3 separate regions of the Homo sapiens genome follow, and all the other regions are linked to region 1. The links come from fine-mapping of genetic effects on gene expression. A gene starts in region 1. Each other region holds a variant in brackets. All regions are shown on one strand. Distances are between the middles of the regions.

Region 1 (6,580 bases):
GAGTGTACACTGGATTACAAACTCAGTGGTCCAAGAGAGATGAAAGACAGCTAGCAGAGCTAACAGGCCAGAACACTCAGGCTTTGTATGGCCACCTGGCACAGCTCCTGCCCCCTCTCTTAGGTGAGGCGCTTCTATGTACTAGCTGCTGCATAGGTTGCTTCTCTTGTGAAGTATTATTATTATTTTAAAAGGAGACGGTGTTTCCCTCTCTCCCCCAGGCTGGGGTGCAGTGGCGTGCACATGAAGTCCTGGGTAACTTAATTCCTGGGTTCAAGCAATCCTCCCGCCTCAGCATCCCAACTAGCTGAGACTATAGGTGTGAACCCATGCCCAGCTAAGTTTTGATTTTTTTTTTTTTATAGAACCAGAGATCTCACTATGTCACCAATGCTGGTCTCAAACTTCTGGCCTCAAGAGATCCTCCTGCCTCAGCCTCCCAAAGTGCCGGGATTACAGGCGTGAGCCACCAAGGCCTCTTGTGAAGTTCCTGATGGGGTCAGAGAGAAGCAACTTGCGGAGTCACAAAGCTAGGAGGCTAAGCTGGGAATTCAATCCAAGTCTCTAAACACTATTCCCCACTGCCTCCTACAATTGCTTTTTCAGTTGTTCTTTATTTTTTTTTTTGTTTGTTTTGTTTTCCTTTGCTAATAAGGTAGTAACTGTTTCAGCCTTCTTGTGCTATAAACGAGGATTTGGGTTGTTAGGAAACAGATCAATGTGGTTTAGTGGCCTGAAACAATTGAAAGCCATTTGGGATCCCAATTAAACTCAAGGTCCTGCTTTAAATGTGTACAGGTTATGCCAATGAGTGAAGGGGCCTGGAAAGAACCAAAGATGCCTAAGGAGCATACGCTGTCTAAAAGGGCCAAATGCTACTCAGAGACTACTGATTACTGCCTTGTGGAAAAGTGGACCCAGCATCACCATATCTTTAGTTTAAAAAAGAGCCCCAAATCCAAATGTGTGGGAAACCTTTTGATCTTTAAAATATTGGCTCAAATGAAAATAAAAACAGAAACAAAACAATATGTGAGCTGGGGCATTACAACAAGCCTGTGGACTGGAAGTGGTCTTATTTGCCACCTTTGGATTCAGTTTGGTATATGACACTGAGTTTCATCTTCCTTATCCACTCTGTAGATGTAAGACAGGGTTATGAGTGGCAATGGGAGCCAGAGTTCCTCACCAAAAACACGCTTGTAGGCAGAGCAATGACTGAACCCTACCCTTACACTAGGTGCTTTGCACCAGGGCACAAAAGCCTGCTTCCAGACCCCACCCCCGGTCAAAGTGGGGCATAACTAGAACCGAATTTACCAGTTTGTTTCCCTTCTTTGGGGCTATAGTTTAAAAAAAAATGCCTTGTTGAAAATCCCCCAAAGTACCTAAAAGTCCTTTTCTTTTCTTTTGTCTGACACCTACAGTTGGAGTCATTTGGGCAAATGTTTAGTTGCTCTGAGTTTCTGTTTCTTCATCTGAAAAATGGAGTAATGATAATTATATCCTCCAGTTTGTTGATCAATATTTGTTAACCACCAGGCACAGGGGTACAATGGTGACTGACATGGCTCCTGAACTCGCAGAGTTCACAAATAAAAACAAATAATCACATCAATGGTCAATTCATCATATTTGTGCTAAACGCTGCGGAGAAATACAGGTGAGGTGGGAAGATTAGAAGTAAGGTATGTAAAGTGCCTGGCACAAATAAATGAATCAGCAGGTCAAGTAGTGGAGTAGGTAAGAACATGGTAGGAACCTAGATGTCAAAGAAATTGATGAAGCTTAGAGCTCTTGGCAAAGTTGTGTCCTTAATAAAAACTGAATGGTTGAGCCATCATCCAAGCTTTTTGGCATCTCTATGTGGCAGAGACCCTGAAGTATTCTATGGTCTGCTGAATGGGAAGAAGAGAAGACAACAGCTTTCCAGCTCTCCCTTCTCCCACTCTCCCTTTTTGGATAACAGCACTCCCACGGGGGTCCCAGAGTAGGCTGGTGGGGGAAGCAGCTTTGGGGTTGGAAGCTAGACCCAGTAGGGGTTGGGGGTCCAACCTGGGGAGTCTCCTACGGAAGTGTCAGCCTAGGATAGGAGATGGGGATGCGGATGAAGGTGGAGCTTCTGACACTCAGTAAGTGCTGACATTTTCATTAATTAAAAACCTTATTGTGATCTGAGACACAAAGGAAATCAGCATGAAAACTGGGTTACAATAAGCACGGGTTCTGGACCGATTCATTTTCTCTCTCATTCACCTAGTTATTTTTATTCTGTGTTAGCAAGGCCCTGGGCGAGGCGTGGAAGATCAGAGAAAGATGGCATAGCCTGTGTCCCTGTGGAGTTCACAGTCCAGGGCAGGCAACAGACATATCAACACAATGTTTCATCACAGAAAGGGGAGTGCTACCAGAGGGAGGCACAGAGGGCTGTGGGCACAGAGAGGGCACCTGACGCAACTGGGGAGGTCAGGGGAGGCTTTGTGGGAAGGTACCCCAAACGGCAACCCCACTCACATGCACAATTCCAGAGATTCTACTAGAAGGCTGTCAAGAGCCATGCCTTCTGGCTGCACCAGCCTCCCAGAGTCCCCTGCTGCCCGATGCAGTGTCTGCAGAGCCAAACGCATCTTCCGCCACGCCTCATCCTCATCCGGCGCCGCATCCGACCCTCCAAGACTCCTGCAGGAGCCTGCCTTCCTGGGCAGGCTCAGCCAAAAGACCAACTCAAAACTCTTTTGTCAGAGCAAGCTTAGGGAGAGCCACCCAGCCCCGAGTGCCACAACCCTCCCAGAGCAACCGTGGCCCATGTCACCCCCGCCTCTCAGTGAACTTTGGCAGGGTACCTCCCGTTATCTCCTTTGCTCAAAAGAAAGTGACCTTCTTCCAGGTGGCAAGCTGGAAGCTTTGGGGAATCCTCCTACTGTTCGCTCTCAGCAGGATTCTCCAAACCTGGGATCTCAAGGTCGGGGTGGGCTGCCTTGCGGAGCAGGGGAGGGAAGAAGGGCAGGTTCTGCTGGGTTTCCACCTCAGTGCAGAAACCCCACCAAAAACTCCTCCGGGCAGCCTGGCTGTCTGCTCCAACTGCTCTGCTGGGTATGGCGAGGAGGCGCCAGGAGACACAGCTGCTGAGGGGGCCGCGGCTGCAGGCGCTGCAGGGGACGGAGTGGAGCCGTTCCCGGGGGCAGAGGGAAGAGGCTGCAGTCGTCCAGTCCCAGAGCCCCGAGATGGCCTGTGGCTGAGGGAGCAGGTGGGCCCGGGGGAGGTGGCGGGCCGAGAGCGGAGCTGCGGCCTCGGGATCACAGCCCAGTCCCAGTCCCAGTCCCAGTGTGGGTGTACGGCCGGAACGCCCGGAGGCGGCGGGGAGAGGGGAGCAGCTTCAGCCTAGTCGCAGGAGCGCGGACCGAGCCTCGGCTTTGGGGAGAGGGGTCCAGCCTCCATTCCCGCCCCGGGGGAGAAAGCTTCGGCGCCGGACCCGGGGGAAGGCTGCTACCCCAGCCGCGGCAGGATGGCCCATCCCCAACCCCGCCCCACTCCCGCTCCCGCTCGGGGAAGGTGAAAGCGCCCGAGCCGCCGAAGTCTCCCCGCTCGCTCCTACCTGCGGGCCGGGCACCAGGTTGGGTTCGTCATCCTCCCTGGGGCCGTCGTGGTCGGGCTCCGCCGGCGCCTCCGGAGGGCCTGCACCCGCTCCCGCCTCCAGGCTTGGCGGCGGCGGGGGCTCGGGCGCCTGGGGCTTCTGCGGCCCCGCGGCCCGAGCCCGCTCGCGCCTGCCCGCACCGCCGCTCGGCCTGCTCCGCCTCCGCGTCATGCCGCCGCTCGCGCCGCTCCCTCGCTCCACACGCCGCCGCCGCCGCCGCCGCCGCCGCCGCCGCCGCCGCCGCTACCGCTCCCCTCACAGGACAACAGCCAATATGGCGGCGCCCGGTTCCCCCCCTCCGCCTGCTGCCAACAGGTCAGAGGGCACGCGGAGTCCGCGCCGCCGCACTAGCCCCCGAGGCCGCCTGCGCCATTTTGAATAAGGTCACCACCCGGAGTTCGCTGGGAGAAAAACTTGGTGGGGAGACGCCCTTCCCCCCCTACGCGGGACGGGAAGGATGCAACCTGCTGGAGGAACGCGTGTAATGCGGTGGTAATCGCGCTGCACCACCCTAGCACTTAATAATTGCCTGTTAAATGGATGAGTGAATTAATTTCTATAGTGTTACAATACTTTCACACCCATCGTCTGACTCCTTCCGACAGCACAGCGAGGCAGGTACGGATCATTCCCATTTTGCAGGTGAGAAATATTGAGGCAACATAAAGGCCTGGAAAAGGTTGCTGTACATCATTTTGTTGGAACTCCTGGGCTCGTGGACGGCCTGAGTTGAAAGGGACGAAGGTCTTTATTTGCAACATATGGTCTACTGGGAGTCCAGCGTTCTGTGCTTGGGACAGTGGGACTCAAACCCGACTCCTTGTTCCCGAGTCTGATGGGGAAGGTAGACACGTAGGTACATAGTTACAACCGGTGTGATAACGATGAGACGACTAGGTGTTTCCAAAAAAATAGTATGTGCAGGAGAGGATTTTGGAGTGGTACACAAAGGAGAATTTTTAAAACTTAATAATTATGTATTTAATTGTTAAAAATGGAATTTCCCCCCTCTTTTTGTGAATATACTGTATAATACATGTACATGGCACAGATTAAAAAAAAAAAGTTTTGAGTGAAGTCTGTCTCATGCCTGGGCTATGTACTCTGAAATTGTGGTTATATGCAGAGTTGCTATTGGTATCAACAGGGGCGGAATCCTGACACTGGCTTCCTAACCCATGGGGCAAGGGCTATTTTGAAAGGAAGAGCTACATGGAAGGCCCTGGAGCTCTCCTTAACTACCAAGAAAATAAATCAAAAATAGTACCTTATCTCACCCAGGGATTAATGCCACTATCAAAGATTTGAAAGACGCAGGGTGAGTCCCATCACATCACCATTACCTCTTCAGTTTGCCCAGAACAGAAGAGAGACGGCCTTGAAGAACAACAGAGCATTATGATAAACTTACTTATTCTGGTAAGAACCCCAACTGCAGGCATTCTTCCAGATGCGGTCCTTCTTGGGACAGATCAGCACAGTTGTTGGTCTCTAATAGGCAACAAGAGGTCTGGTCAATGGTTATTCTTCTGTACCAAACACCAGGAATCCCTTGCATTGATCTGGCAGGGGCAGCGGTAAACCCTCACTGTCTTGCTTCAGGGTATGTCACACTCTGGACCCAGCCACTTAGTTTACAGGGATTTTTTTTTTTTTTTTTTTTAATGACAGAGTCTCACTCTATCTCCCAGGCTGGAGTGCAGTGGCGCAATTTCAGCTCACTGCAACCTCCGCCTCCTGGGTTCAAGGGATTCTCGTGCCTCAGCCTCCAGATTAGCTGGGATTAGAGGCACATGCTACCACGCCCCCTAATTTTTTTGTATTTTTAGTAGAGACGGGGTTTCCCCGTATTGCCCAGGCTGGTCTCGAATTCTTGACCTCAGGTGATGCACCTGCCTCGGCCTCCCAAAGTGCTAGGATTACAGGCGGAGCCACTGCACCCTGCCAGTTTACAGGGATTTTTTTTACTAAATCTCCATTCTAATGGATATCAGGCTAATCTGCTGAGGCACTGATGACATCATCTTGATGGACCTTAAGAAAAGGGAATAGCAGATATCCTGGATGATTTGGTAAGGCATGATGTGTGTGCCAGAGGATGGATAATAAATCTCACAAATATATAGGGGCCTCGCAGTAAGCCATCTAGGAGTCTGGGATATGTTGAGATATTTCGTACAAAGTGAAGGGAAAGCTGCTGTAGATCACACTCCCTACTAGGGAAGAGGTGCAATACTTGGGCTGGGGCTTCTTTAGACTTGGTAGGTAACATAGATGTATTTCGATACATTATTATTATTATTATTATTATTATTATTATTATTATTATTATTATTATTTTGAGATGGAATCTCTGCCACCCAGGCTGGAGTGCAGTAGCGGGATCTCTGCTCACTGCAACCTCTGCCTCCCGGGTTTGAGTGATTCTCCTGCTGGCCTCCGGAGTAGCTGGGGTTACAGGCGCGCACCACCATGCTCAGCTAATTTTTGTATTTTTAGTAGAGACAGGGTTTCACCATGTTGGTCAGGCTTGTCTCGAACTCCTGACCTCCTGAACCTCCGGCCTCAGCCTCCCAAAGTGTTGGGATTACAGGCATGAGCCACCGCGCCCGGCCTGTACTTAGGTACGTTATTTTGACCAGTTACTGGGTCACTTGAAAGCTGCCAACTTTAAGGCAGGATCATACAAAAAGAGAAACTTTTCTTAGTGGACCAGGCTGCAGAGTAAATAGTTCTGGCTTTGGTCTTAATACTCAAGCATTGGATTTTGGAGCAAACTTATGCTTTCCTTCAGCAAATAGTTATATTCCATTTTAGAAATAGCTCCTGGCTTGCTTCAGGGGTCTGGTGAAATTGGATGCCTGATCCTGGCCTACTAGGTGACCACGTGACCTGAACTGAGTGTTATCTGATCTACTCAGCCATAAAATCAGGGGTGCTCAGCAA
Region 2 (7,402 bases), 130 kb before region 1:
ACTACAGGAGGTTTTTTTAAATTATTATTTATTTATTTATTTATTTTTTTGGAGACAGTTCTTGCTCTGTTACCCAGGCTGGAGTGCAATGGTATGATCATGGCTCACTGCAGCCTCAAGGAGGTTTTATTTTTTAAGTGTAATGAGAAGTGTATTAATTATCTATGGCTGCATAACAAATTGTCCCAAAATTTAGCAGCTTAAAATGACATTTATGGAGACTGATTTCAATGATAACTCCAGTTCTCTCACGTGGGCCAGCCTCACATCAATTAAACTCTTTTTTTTTTTTTTTTTTTGAGACAGAGTCTCGCTCTGTTGCCTAGGCTGGAGTGTATAGTGACACGATTTTGGCTCACTGCAACCTCTGCCTCCTAGGTTCAAGGGATTCTCCTGCCTCAGCCTCCCAAGTAGTTGGGACTACAAGTGCCCACCACAACACCTGGCTAATTTTTATATTTTTAGTAGAGATGGGGTTTCACTATGTTGGCGAGGCTAGTCTCGAACTCCTGACCTCATGATTGGCCTGCCTTGGCCTTCCAAAGTGCTGGGATTACAGGCGTGAGCCACTGCTCCTGGCCAATTAAGCTTTTATTTTATTTTTTTGAGACAGAGTTTCTCTCTTGTTGCCCAGGCTGGAGTGCAATGGCACGATCTCGGCTCACCGCAACCTCTGCCTCCCGGGTTCAAGCAATTCTCCCGCCTCAGCCTCCTGAGTCGCTGGGATTACAGGCATGTGCCACCACGCCTGGCTAATTTTGTATTTTTAGTAGAGATGGGGTTTCTCTATATTGGTCAGGCTGGTCTTGAACTCCTGACCTCAGGTGATCCACCCACCTTGGCGTCCCAAAGTGCTGGGATTACAGGTGTGAGCCACCACTCCCGGCCATAAACTCTTTTTAAAAAAGATATTTATGGGTCACAGTTTCTATGGGTCAGGAACCCGGCACTTTTTAACTGAGTGCCACTGGATCAGCATCTCTCACAAGGCTGCATCGGAGGGTCAGCTGAGGCTGCCGGGGGAAGGATCCACTTCCAAGTTCACTTACAAAGCTGTTGGCTAGAGACATCAGTTGCCTGCCACATAGGGTCTCTCCATCTCACAACCTAACAGGTGGTTTCTCTCAGACTGAGCCAGTGAGGGAGCAAGAGGAGTTACGTAAGATGGTAGCCACAATCTTTTAGTAATCTCATGTTGGAAATGACATTCCATCACTTTGGCTGCATTCCTTCCATTGGAAGTGAGTCAAGCTGGGTGCCATGGCTCATGCCTGTAATCCCAAGACTTTAGGAGGCCAGGGAGGGAGGATTGCTTGAGCCAGGAGTTTGAGACCAGCCTGGGCAACAGAGGGAGACCCTATCTCTACAAAAAAATTAATTAGTTGGGTATGGTGGCATGCGCATGTAGTCCCAGCTACTCGGGAGGCTGATGTAGGCTGATCGATTGGGCCCAGGAGGTGGAGGCTGCAGTAAGCTGTGATCGAGCCTGAGTGACAGAGCAAGACCCTGTCTCTTAGGGAAAAAAAACGTGGCCCGGCCCAGTGGCTCACGCCTGAAATCCCAGCACTTTGGGAAGCCGAAGCAGGCAGATCACCCAAGGTCAGGAGTTTGAAACCAGCCTGGCTAACATGGTGAAACCTCATCTATACTAAAAATACAAAAATTAACCAGGCGTAGTGGGCAGCGCCTGTAATCCCAGCTACTCCGGAGGCTGAGGCAGGAGAATTGCTTAAACCCGGGAGGCGGAGTTTGCAGTGAGCCGAGATTGCACCACTGCACTCCAGCCTGGGCGACAGAGCGAGACTCTGAAAAAAAGAAAAGGCCGGGGGCAGGCCAGGCCTGGTGGCTCACGCCTGTAATCCCAGCACTTTGGGAGGCAGAGATGGGCAGATCACTTGAGGTCAGGAGTTCAAAACCAGCCTGGCCAACATGGTGAAACCCCATCTCTACAAAAATTAACTGGGCGTAGTGGCACGCGCCTGTAGTCCCAGCTACTCGGGAGGCTGAGGCAGGAGAATTGCTTGAACCTGGGAGGCAGAGGTTGCAGTGAGTGGAGATCAAGCCACCGTACTCCAGCCTGGCAACAGAGCGAGACTTCCACAGAGCGAGACTCCATCTCAAAAACAAAAAAAAAGAAAAAAAGAAAAAGAAAAAATGCCGGGTGTAGTGGCTCACACCTGTAATCCCAGCACTTTGGGAGACCGAGACGGGCGGATCAGGAGTTTGAGACCAGCCTGGCCACATGGTGAAACCCCGTCTCTACTAAAAATACAAAAAATTAGCCAGGCGTGGTGGTGAGTGCCTTTAATTCCAGCTACCCGGGAGGCTGAGGCAGGAGAATTGCATGAACCCAGGAGGTGGAGGTTGCAGTGAGCTGAGATCATGCCATTGCACCCCAGCCTGGGTAAGGAGAGCAAAACTCCATCTCAAAAAAAAAAAAAGTGAGTCAGGAGGTCCACCTGACACTTAAGGGGATCTTAAGGCTGTGAATACCAGGAAGAAGCAGAGATCCACGGACCAGGAAGAAGCAGAGATCCACGGACCAGGAAGAAGCAGAGATCCACGGACCAGGAAGAAGCAGAGATCCACGGACCAGGAAGAAGCAGAGATCCACGGACCAGGAAGAAGCAGAGATCCGTGGTGGCAGGGGTACCTTAGAGGTTGCCTACCACAGGCAGCCACTGGAGAGTTCTGAGTAAGAGTGACAGGATCCGGCTGATTGTTTTTAAGACAGGCCATCCAGTCACACAATGCAAGATTAAAGGTGCAAAAAGGGAGGTGAAAAACCTCCCTCCCACCCCCATCCCCAGCCATTTAACTACCCCTTCCCAGATGCAAGCAGCATTTCTGCTGCCTCACGTGGCCTTCCCAAGGTGGCAACATATATATAAGCAAAACTGTCTGTGGTGGTTGTTAGTGTTGTTCACCAAACATTTCCAATTCTTTTATCCTTCCAGGCCTATAGGAGTGATGCCAGGTACCTGCTTCTGCATTATAAACTACTCCAAACTTAGTGGCCTGTTTTATCATGCTCATGGATTCTGTGGGTCAGGAATTCAGGCAGGACTCAGCAGGGAAGATGCCAGGGACCTCAGCTGGATACTTGCATGGCTGGGGGTGACTCAAATTGCCAGGGGTTAGAATTATCATATGGAGGCTTCTTCACTCACATGTCTGGTGCTGGGGGTGGGATGACTGGATCATCCCAGCGTCCTGGGCTCAGCTGGGATTGTCAACCACAGTAGAGCACACACATGTGGCCTCTCCATTTGGCTAGGGCTTCTCACAGCAGCAGCTGACTGTGAGGAAAGAGCCCAAGAGGACAGTTCTGGGGAGCCGGCATTTTATGACAGCCAGGCCATATGGCCTTTCCTGACCTGGCCTCAGACTTCACTCTGCATCATTTCCACCATATTCTACCGATGACAAGAGAGTCATTAAGGTCAGACCAAATTCAAGGGGAGGGAAATTAAACTCTATCTCTTGCTGTGGGGGTGGCAAGGTTCCATTGCAGAGGTGCCCATGGGATGGGAATGCATTGTTACACTCATCTTTAGAAAATATAATCTGCCATAGTAATGTTGTGTCTCCCCACTCCTTTATTTATTTATTTATTTATTGAGACAGAGTCTCACTCTATCTCCCAGGCTGGAGTGCAGTGGAACGATCTCGGCTCACTGCAGCCTCTGCCTCCTGAGTTCCAGCGATTCTCCCACCCCAGCCTCCCAAGTAGCTGGGACTACAGGTGCACAACACCACGCCTGGCTAATTTTTGTATTTTTAGTAGAGACAGGTTTTCACCATGTTGGCCGGTCTGGTCTCAAACTCCTGACCTCAGGTGATCCACCAGCCTTGGCCTCCCAAAGTGCAGGGATTACAGGCATGAGCCACCATGCCAGCCCTTCTCCCCACCCCTTGAAAGCTACTTGTGGCCATGTGGTTTGCTTTGACCAATGAAATGTGAGCAGAAGTGACTTGTGTCACTTTTGGGTGCGAGCTTTAAGGACTATTGTATGATTTACCAAA[T/C]TTCCCATTTCCTTTCACCACCTGCCATTGTAGAAGCACAAACTGCAATGAAGCCCCTACTACGCTGGGGCCCTGAGTGACTACTATGTGTAGTGCCACCCCACCACCCAACAAGCTGTGTTAGACATGTGGTGTATGCAGGAAATGAACTTTTGTTGCTTTAGGTCACTTAAACTTGGGATTGTTTGTTACTGCAGCAGAACCTAATCTATCCAGACCCTTCCTTTTTTTTGAGACAGAGTCTCACTCTGTCACCCAGGCTGGAGTGCAACATCTCTGCTTACTGCAACCTCTACCTCCTGGGTTCAACCAATTCTCCTGCCTCAGCCTCCTGAGTAGCTAGGATTACCATTCCCAGCTAATCTTTGTGTTTTTTAGTAGAGATGGGCTTTCCCCATGTTGGCCAGGCTGGTCTTGAACTCTTGACCTCAGGTGATCCGCCCGCCTCGGCCTCCCAAAGTGCTGGGATTACAGGCTGAGCCACTGTGCCCAGCCCAGACACTTCTTATGCAAGCCTTACACACTGTTCTGCACCCTGATTTTTTCCACTTAACAATATATCTTGGAGATTGTTTATATCAGTATACAAGCACTTCCACGCTTTTTTTTTAAATAGCTACATCGTATTCCTGGGTAGGAAAGGACATTTTACTTAATCAGTCTCTATTAAGGACAATTAGTATGATCCATCTTTTTGGACAATGCTGCAATGAATAGCCTTAAACATTTCTTTTTTTTTTTTTTTTTTTGAGACAGAGTCTCACTCTGTCATCCACGCTGGAGTGCAGTGGCACAATCTCCGCTCACTGCAACCTCTGCACCTGGCTAAGTTTTGGACTTTTAGTAGACATGGGGTTTTGCCATGTTGGCCAGGCTGGTCTTGAACTCCTGGTCTCAAGTGATCCTCCCGCCTCTGCCTCCCAAAGTATTGGGATTACAGGTGTGAGCCACCAGGCCCCACCAGCCTTAAGCATTTCTTATTTTGCTTGAGTGCAACGATATTTGTTTCTTTTGAGACAGAGTCTTACTCTGTCCCCCAGGCTAGAGTGCAATGGCACGATCTCAGTTCACTGCAACCTCCGTCTCCCAGGTTCAAGCGATTCTCCTGCCTCAGCCTCTCAAGTAGCTGGGATTACAGGCACCCGCCACCACACCTGGTGAATTTTTTTAAATTTTAGTAGAGATAGGTTTTGCCATGTTGGCCAGGCTGTTCTCAGACTCCTTCCCTCGTGATCCACCCACCTCGGCCTCCCAAGGTGCTAGGATTACAGGCGTGAGCCACAGCACCCGACTAAGTGCAATGATATTTGTAAGATAGATTCCTAGATGTGCACATCTCAGATGGTTGGTGGCAGATTTTCCCTCTTATTTATTTATTTATTTTTGAGATGGAGTCTCGCTCTGTTGCCCAAGCTGGAATGCACTGGCATGATCTTGGCTCACTGCAACCTCCACCTCCAGGGCTTAAGCGATTCTCATGCCTCAGCCTCCTGAGTAGCTGGGACTACAGGCCCGCACCACCATGCCCGGCTAATTTTTTATATTTTAGTAGAGATGGGGTTTCACCATGTTGGCCAGGGTGGTCTCGAACTCCTGAGCTCAGGTGATCAGCCTGCCTTGGCCTCCCAAAGTTCTGGGATTACAGGCATGAGCCACCATGCTTAGCCAATTTTCCCTTTTAAAAATATCACTTTGGCTGTAGGTGGAAAATGGCTTAAAGAGCTGGAACGAAATTTCCTGAGTGACATCTCCTCTTCACCTCTTATCTATTGCCATGTCCTGTTCATGCCAGCTACATGCCAGGTCTCCATCTGTCCACCTGTCTGCATGTCCTGGCCACTGCCCCAGCATAGGGCACCATCATTCCTCTCTCTAAAAGTTCCTTCTAAAAGGTCTCTCACCTGTCTTAGGATACTTGGCTTGCAGACAAGGAAGCCAATTCTGAGTAACTAAGCAGATGAGGAATGGATGGGGCAGCCTGGGGGGCTTGCTGAATCCCCCTCCCCCAGGAAGGGCCTAGCTTGACTGCCTTCCTTGCCTCCCCCAACCTCCACGGCCTCCACAGTGAATTCTAAATGATCCCCCTGATGTCTTGTGCCGGTCACATGCTCTAGATTCAAAGACCTGGTTGGAAACATTGGAATTGTGCTCCAGCTACCAGAGACCTGGGAGAAAAAATTCTACCTCCCTTCTTTGATTTCCTGAGTTGAAGGCAGGGTCTGCCTCCACATCTCATAGGATTCTTCTCAAACGGGAAGGGCTTCAGATGTTGGGAACTAAAACAACAACAAGCCAGCCCCCTCCCCTCAGCTTATCCTTCACAGTGCAGCCCAGAGCTCTCTATGAAAGCAAATCTGATCACCCTACTCAAAACCTCCGTGAGAGCTCCCTACCACCTTCAAGACGAAGTCCAAAATTCCTTAGGTGGCTCTCAAGGCCCTCCCTGATCCAGGCCCCTCCTGAGACTTCAGCCTCATTTCTTGCCCCCATGTCGACCCCATTGTGTACCACTGTGTACCTTTAAACCCCAGCTGGATGCTTAGGTGCTGAACGCAGGAGCCCTTCCTGACTTCCTCTACGGAACTTCGAACATGTGATACCCCTCTGTCCAGAAGGCTCTTTCCCTCCCTACTCCAGTAACCTGCACATTTTCACTGAATCTTCAGATTTCACTTGGACACAACAGCCTTCACTAAGTGAGGTACCTGCCCTATGTTCCACTGGGCCCTGGGTTTCCCTTTTTTTTTTTTTTTTTTGAGACGGAGTCTCACTCTGTTGCCCAGGCTGGAGTGTATTGGCACGATCTCGGCCCACTGCAAGCTCCACCTCCCAGGTTCACACCATTCTCCTGCCTCAGCCTCCCAAGTAGCTGGGACTACAGGTGCCCGCCACCATGCCCGGCTAATTTTTTGTATTTTTAGTAGAGACGGGGTTTCACCGCATTAGCCAGGAGGGTTTCCCTCTTTTAAGGTACTTAACTCCCTAGATCCTAGATCCATCCACTTTTCTCCGTCTCTATTGCCACCTTGTAGGTCCAGGCCACCACCATCTCTTTACTGGAATTCTGTAAACTCCTGACTGCTCTGCTTCCACTCTTGGCCCCCTAGGAATCCACCAGAGTGATATTTTTAAAATATAAATCATTCTTTCAAATGTTTCACATTTCACTTAGCAAAAACACTTCAGCCTCCTGGACGTGTTCACAGTCCTCCATGACCTAGCTAGTGCCTTTGCTCCTTCTGTCTCATCTCAGACCACTGGGCCCAGAAGCTGCGGACGCCTTCTCCTATTCCCTGAACACACCACTTAGTCTGGCTTAGAGCCTCTGCGTTTGCTGTTGCTTCTACTGGATCCGCTCAAATGTCACACCCTGAGA
Region 3 (7,402 bases), 28 kb before region 1:
ACCTAATACAATGTAAATGCTATGTAGTTATTATATTTTTATTTTTATTTATTTGAGACAGAGTCTTACTCTGTTACCCAGGCTGAAGTGCAATGGCACAATCTTGGCTTACTGCAACCTCTGACTCCCAGGTTCAAGCGATTCTCTTGCCTCAGCTTCCCAAGTAGCTGGGATTACAGGCGCCCGCCACCACGCCCGGCTAATTTTTGTATTTTTATTAGAGACAGGGTTTCACCATGTTGGCCAGGCTGGTCTAGAACTCCTGACCTCAAGTACCTCAAGTGATCCGCCTGCCTTGGCCTCCCAAAGTGCTGAAATTACAGGCATGAGCCACCACCTGTAAAAATACGTATTTTTTTGAGACGGAGTCTCGTTCTGTGGCCCAATCTCAGCTCACTGCAGCCTCCACCTCCCAGGTTCCAGCGATTCTCCTGCCTCAGCCTCCCGAGTAGCTGGGATTATAAGCACGTGCCACCATACCTGCCTTATTTTTCTATTTTTAGTAGAGACGGGGTTTCACCAACTTGGCCAGGCTGGTCTTGAACTCCTGATCTCAGGTGATCCACCCGCCTCGGCCTCCCAAAGTGCTAGGATGAGAAGCATGAGCCACCGCGCTTGGCCAAAAATACTAATTTTTAAAAAATTTGCATTATTTAGTAATGTATTGCTATTTTTTGTGTTTTGTTTTTTTTCCTGAATATTTTTGATTGCAGATATGGAGGGTGACTGTATGCCGTGTTTCTTTCACCCTAATCTTTTGTACTCACTGGCCCCCTTGGCATGAATACCTTTTCATCTTATCTGGCCAACTCATTCTTACTCTTCAGGTTTCAACTTGGTTACCACCTCTCCTGGGAAGGCCTCCTGGCCAGCCCCCACCCCTTCTATCCTCCCCAACTCTATGCCATTTATCAGTAGGCTGCATGTTCATGGCCAGACTCCTGGTCTAGACTGCTTCATTGACCTCAGCCCAGGCAAAGCAGAGAATGTGCAAGTGAAGACACAAAGCAAATAAAGCTGGAAAAAGCCCTGGTTCTTGGGGCCTGACATGCCTCCTCCTATCTCTTGCACCTTCCCAGATGTGCCATCCTGCCCAGTGGCTCCGTGGGTTTTCAGCAGGCAGGCTGGTGGGAGAGGGCCTGGGGGGGCGGTGAGCCTCCCCAAGGGGTCAGGGCCAAGGGAGCAGGCCTTTCTGAGGCTTGAGGCACAACACAGGGCTTGAGTGTGGGCAGGACCTGGAGTCCTCCACAAGTGGGAGAGCAGGCAGCCCACACCTACCTCTTAAAGTACTCCACCTCTCGGTCAGTCTCATCCATCTCCACCCCGTCCATGTCCTTGGGCAGGAACACATCGTCTAGGAAGACACAGCCAGGAGGGCTCAGTGCCCATGGCCAGGCCTTTGGGGTTATGCTCTGGGGGCAGCGCTGTCTACACACAAAGGCTGCCCCTCCACCCCGTGGACTGGCTGGGGTAGGGGGTCAGCCGCTCAGTTCCTGGTGCACTCACCCAAGGAGGAGGCTGGCTTCTCCTGCTTGTTGCGGCTCCGGCGGCTGCGGCCCTTGCCCTGGGGCAAGCTCTGTGGCCTTGCTGGGCCTGAGGGCTGCACAGACTCCTGCTCCTGAGGCCGTGCCTTGGCCTCGCCTGGCCAGTTTCGCCAGGAGCTGCCCTTCTCCTTCTCAGTTTTGGGACTGCCAGCCCAACCTGGTCCTGGCCGGCTCCCCCGGCTCCCCTCTCCAGCCTCAGCACAGCTGCCTACTTTGGGAAGCTCTAGGACCCTGCCTGGCTGCTTGGGGCCAGCGACCTGGCCCTTGGCACTGGGAACCTCTAGGCTGGCTGGGGGCCGGGGGGCTGGGCTTGCCTCGCTCTTCTTGGCCTGACTGCCCTGCCTCTTGCCCTTCTGTGGCTTCCCACCTGAGGACACAGGCTCAGGCAGCTCCTGCTTGCAACTGGGAACTTCCTTTGAGCTTGGCTCCTCGGAGCTGGGGTAGCCCGGCTTGGGTGTCTTGACCCAGATCACCCGGGATAGGTTGGGCACGGTGTTGAGTCTCCTCACGAGCCCGTTCTCGGGGACGATACCGGGAGGGGGCCCCCTCACCTCTGTCCATGGTGGGTGGGGGCCTCTCATTTCTGCCCATGGTGGGGCTGGCTCGCCTGGAGCTTGTAACGTGTGGTTCTGAGGGGAGCCCAAAGTCAAAGGGGACAGGTCAAGGTTGATGTCAGGCTGCTGCTCTGAGGAGCCACTGAGGTTTGAGGGGGGTAGACTCTGAGGCTCAGGCTCAGCAGCCCCCTCCTTAGAGAAGCCATTGCTGTCCATGCTGAGCTCACACACACTGAAGCTGGCACGGATGGAGTCTTTGACAGTGTTTTTGATCTCCTGCAGACGGCTGCTCAGGAAGCTGTTGACCCGATCCAGTTCCCGGTCGGGCCACTCCAAGAGCCTCTCCCTGGCAGGCCTTGGCTCCCGGCTTCCAGAAACACGATTTGCCTGCTTTAGAGCTTCTGCTGCCAACTGGGCCTTCTCCTTTTCCTGCCAAGGCAAGAGGCAGTTTTAGCAGGAGGCTGTCAACTGCCAGGCACAATGTGATACCTGACCCATCAGCCTGGGGCCCAGCTTTGCCACTAACTTGCTGGAAGCAAAGCCTTAAAATCCTAGCCTGCTTACCCACCCTGCAGGAGTGAGGGCAAACTGCAGCCAGACAGGTACATGTCCTGGGGGCAGGGGTAGTCACACCCACAGAGGGTAGGGTTTTTACAGCTTGTTCACCCAGAGCCTCAGTTTCAGTGGACTAATCTGCAAAATGGGGACAATAATTCCGGAGTAAAGCCAAAGTGGGGATGCATGTGAAGACCACTACTAGAGAGGCATTCTCTCCACCCCTACGGGTGGTGGGGAAAAAGCCATGCCATCACGGGGTCTTACAGGAGGCAGGTGTGGGGGTAGATGAGATTACTCTGGTTGGGAGGGCATGTGCCTTCCTGATGCTATGTCTGGGTGTTACCAAAGAGGGCGGTGTTCCCGTAGAGAGGCCACTTGCTGCACATTTGGTCTCAAGTAATCAAGGTCACACCTAGAGTGTGCCCAATGGCATACCATGGACAAACACACTGGCCTACACAGCAAGATGTGAGAGCTGCTCCTTTGCCCAGGTGAGGCCTGGAAGGCTCAGAGAGGCCAGGCCCTGCCAGTTGGCTTTGACAGATCTGGATCTAGGGAATCAAAATGAAAGTCTGTGGGATCTCAGTCACCCCAACCTCTCCATCCCACCTCAAGGCCAACGATGCCTTTAGAGGGAGACAGGCGGCAGATAAAAAACCCTCGGGAAGGAGGTTGCTGTGGTGCGCCTGGCGCCATTGACTCCCACTGCCTCCTGTACTTCCAGCTGATTTGGGAATGGAGGAAGAGAAACATGAAAGGGCAGCTGGTGAGAGAAACCAGGGCTTGCTACCACCTC[G/A]GAGTCAATGTACAGAGGGTGACCCTGCGTCCCAGCAGGCACTTATCTTTTGTGAACCCTGGCTCCACAATGGACTACAGTCAATTGTTCTGTGGGACCTTGGACAAATCACTTATTCTCTCTGAACCTTACTTTTCCTATTTGTAAATTAGGAAGAAGAGGCATCTCTACATTCCAGGGTCAGTATGAGGACAGCTGAGAGTCTGTGTGGGGTCCTTTCCCATGTGCGAAGGTGGGGCTGGGCTTCGTGGCCCTCAGGGAGCAGCTTGGTCTGCAGCAGCTGCAGCAGCATTTCTAGCTGTGAGTAGGGCTCAGAGGCCCTGGGTTGGACCAACGAGGACCAAGGGCCCTTCACCTCGCTCCCCCAGCACCACACAGATTTCACAGAAAAGTTTGGCTGCTAAAAAAAAAAAAGTTTGACAACTGCTGGTGTGGAGGGAATGATATGGAACCATATACACTCTGGAAGCCAGAGGAGAAAGCACAGAAACACACACTTTCTGCTCTGTACCGTCAGCACTTCCCATAGATGTCTCCTTTAATCCTCGCCACTGTCTTTGCTGCATCATGACCCTCTGCTTATAGGTGAGAAACCTCGACTTTGGAAAGAACAGGAGGAGGAGGTGGCTAGGAAGTGGCAGAGCCAGGACAATACACCCAGGCCTGATCTTCAGAAGTTCCTATGTTTCTCAATTCCATCTGACAACCATTTACCGACCATTGAGGCTGTGAGGCAGCAGGCCAGGCCCTGTGAGTTTAGCGTACGTGAGACATTCTCTGCCTCGCTGACTTCAGTCTGCTGAGGGAGACAACAGCAAACAGCCTGTTGAATTCAGAGTGACAGTGACAAGTGCTGCATGGAAGAAAGCACGGGGTGATCTGGGAATCTAGAGGAGATGCTCCCAACACAGACTGGTTCACCAGGGAGTGCTTCCTGGAGGTGGGAGGATCTGCACTGAGCACAGAATGGGGAGTGGAATCATCCCGGAGGCAGTGAGACAAGCATTTTCTAGAGAGAAGGAATAGCAAGTGGAAAGGCTGGAAATGGGAAAGCTCAGTATCTTCTGGGAATGCAAATCATTCAGAGGTATAGCTGTAGCCCAGATTTTTTGGGGGATGTGGGGGTTGGGTGGGGCAGGTGGGCAGGAAGGTCAGAAAGGAGAGGCTGAGAGATAAAGCTGGCAGGGGCTGATCGTGAAGGGCCCTGCAGGCCCTACAGTGTTTGTGCCCGAGGGCAATGTCCAGCCACTGATGGCTTTTAAGGTAGTGGCAGTAGGGTGGAGAGCGGTGGACTGGTCTGAGCTATCAGCGATGTGGCATGGATAGGGCTTTTGGTGCTGGGTAGGGAGACAGAATGAGAAAAGTCAGAGAAACATTGATGGCCACTATGGCTGCCACAGCAGCCCCACTGCCTGAGAACTCACATGTGCCAGGCACTCTGCCTAACCTTTCCATGCATCGCTCCATTTCATCCCTGCAACAATCTACGACTTAGGTTCTGTTATTCTCATTTTATGGATGAAGAAACTGAGGCTTAGAGGTTAAGTGATTTGCCCAATGTCATACAGCAAGTGTGGCAGAGCCAAGTGTCAAACTGAGATCCAGTTCCAGGCATGCTATTCCAGGTCACTATGATGCACTCCCCAGGCGGGCGCCCAGTGCTCCGGCTCAGGCAACAGGGTGGGAGGCGGTGCCATTGACTAGACAGACAACAGAGAAGGGAAAGCAGGCCTGTTCGGAGAAAGACAACAAGCTGAACTTTGGATGTGCAGAGTCTGAGATACCTGTGGGACGTCCACAAGGAGGTGTCCAGTAGCAGTTGGAGACGTGGATGTACAGGGTGGGGAGGAAACACTATTGGGCTGTTTCTAGATGGCATCTCTTTCCCAGGGAGATGTCCCCATGAAGGAGGGTCAAGTGGAGGACGAGGAGCTCACAAAGGAGACAGAAAGGACGTCAGAGGGGCAGGCAAGACATCTGGAGAACATGGCACTCCCCTTGCCCTTTCCTGCCTGGCTGAGGACAGAGGAGCCCAAAGACAATGTGTGAAAAGGACAAACACAAATGCCAGATATTCTCTAGTGGACTAACACGATAGGAACAGCAGAGGAGGATGGATTTGGCAACAAAAAAGTCACCGGTGACTCTGGAGAGGGTGTGGGTAGAAAACCGCCTGCAATGAGCTAATGGGTGGAAGGGAAGACAGTGAATGCAGACATCATTTTTCAAGAAGTGTGGCTGTGATGAGAGGAAAGAGGCTGGGGAGGGGTTGAGAGAGAGGTAACAGGCTCAAGGAGCAGTTTGCTTCCAAAAAAGAGAATGGTGGACACAATGAAATGTGGACGGGAACAGCATGGAGGAGAGGCTAAGCTAGACCAGGAGCCTGCTGCTGGGCTGAGGGGTCAAGAAAGTACCGCACAGGCCTTAGGCGGGAAAAGGGTGACTCTCATGACAAGGAAGAAAGTATGTTTGCAGGTGGGAATGGCAAAACAGTGGGAGAATCCCTGTATAATGGCTTTTTTCCTCATTGAAATAAAAAGTGAGGCTATTTGCCAAAAAATAAGGTGTGGGCTCGGAAGGCCTAGCGGTTTGAGAAGACTGGAGGCCTGACAGAAGGACTGTGGGGAATGGACGTGCTAAGGTACAGGAAGCCCAGGGAACCATGAGAGGCCCGCCTGGCGACACGGGAACTCGGCAATCGGGAGCCCACGTGGCTGGCTGCCACAGATTCACTCATGTGCTTTTCTTGAGCTGTAGAAAGGGAGAGCCAGGCTGGGGTGGAACCCAGGGCTGCAGTGTTTCTGAGTGGGTCTGAAGGAAAGACAGCGGGACAAGGAATTGAGTACTGGTGAGTGAGTGAGTGAGTGATGGGTCAATTTGCCTGCCCTCCTACCAATACTTAGCAATGCTTACTCCATTCAAGTGAGTGAGAAACGGATTGACCTGGGAAGAAGAGAACGGGGCAGGAGAGTCTTCAGTGGATGTGGAGGAGTGGCAGGAGGTCACAGATGACAGAGCCAGGGGTGCAGTTTTTAAGAAGCAGGGTGTCTCTCTGCTCCCTTCTCCCACTGTCAGCCCATGACTCTCTCACCTTCGTGTAGACAGAAGACACAAAGACAAGGTGAGAGTGTCACGGGCTGGCAGTGGGAGAAGGGAGCAGAGAGACACTGAGCTCTTTCCATTTCCTGAGGCGGGAGAGAAGGAGCAGCTGGGCTTTGGTGGAGAGCCAGACTGTGAAGTCCAGGAGGTGGAAGGAGACAAGGGAGGAGGCTGCTGTCTACAGAGATAATGACCATAATCACTTGATGCATCACGCTGCCACTGTGTGTCTGTCCCTGCCTGCAGCCCCACGACTAAGTCTGGAAAGGCAGGGCTGCCTGGTTCTGCCTGGGCCTGCCAGACAGGAGCTGTGCAGTGTGGGATGAGTGAGCAGAGCCTCCAGATATATGAGGTAGGTTGGGAGTACAGTGGAAGTTACCCAAGGATGGCTATGAAGGAGGAAACAGCTGAACTGAACTTGGAAGGAAAGTTTGTCAGAAGAAAAGGTGAGAGAAGATAGCATTATCAGTAAAGGGGAAGAGACATCTGAGCACACATATTTACGAAAAGCACATCAGACTTGGGAACTGCCGGATGTGCTCTCTGGGGACCTAACTGGGAACCACTGTCCTAAGAAGCCAGGAAAGGCCAGAGACTACTGCAGCCCACTGAACCTTTCTGGCTAGGTGACTGCATGGGAGAAAGACAGTGCTGACCACCTTCAGAAGGCAGCGGTGGGACCCCTTGGCTCACTACTTCAGGCGGCGGGAGAAGGATCCTGGTTGTCCTTGGGGCTGAAAAAGGATGGTGAATCACTTCTGCTTTCCAAAGCACTAGGGCTGTTTGACCACCCAGGAACTGGAACTAGCTGGTTGTTACACCCAAATCTCTTCGGATGCTGGGCTCCTAAA

What was found.
Region 2: its variant is fine-mapped to the expression of FAM193B in whole blood (TOPMed, PIP above 0.99).
Region 3: its variant is fine-mapped to the expression of FAM193B in whole blood (TOPMed, PIP above 0.99).

What each region holds. Positions count from the first base shown.
Region 1 is chr5:177,550,654-177,557,233 of GRCh38, forward strand. It overlaps FAM193B (family with sequence similarity 193 member B), which reads right to left and starts at 3,910. Exons shown (of 9, transcript NM_001190946.3): 1 at 3,596-3,910. The coding sequence starts at 3,805. It overlaps FAM193B-DT (FAM193B divergent transcript), which reads left to right and starts at 3,975. Exons shown (of 3, transcript XR_941274.3): 1 at 3,975-4,276. RefSeq lists silencers at 3,079-3,188, 3,519-3,728, enhancers at 3,609-4,112, 3,839-3,998, 4,019-4,168 and a cis regulatory region at 6,331-6,580.
Region 2 is chr5:177,418,071-177,425,472 of GRCh38, forward strand. No RefSeq gene overlaps it. Among named protein-coding and RNA genes, the nearest start is that of GRK6, 4.9 kb to the right of the region's middle. The variant T/C (reference allele first, on the strand shown) is at 4,027.
Region 3 is chr5:177,522,679-177,530,080 of GRCh38, forward strand. FAM193B (family with sequence similarity 193 member B) reads right to left here. Exons shown (of 9, transcript NM_001190946.3): 6 at 1,507-2,527; 7 at 1,279-1,354. Among named protein-coding and RNA genes, the nearest start is that of DDX41, 9.4 kb to the left of the region's middle. The variant G/A (reference allele first, on the strand shown) is at 3,453.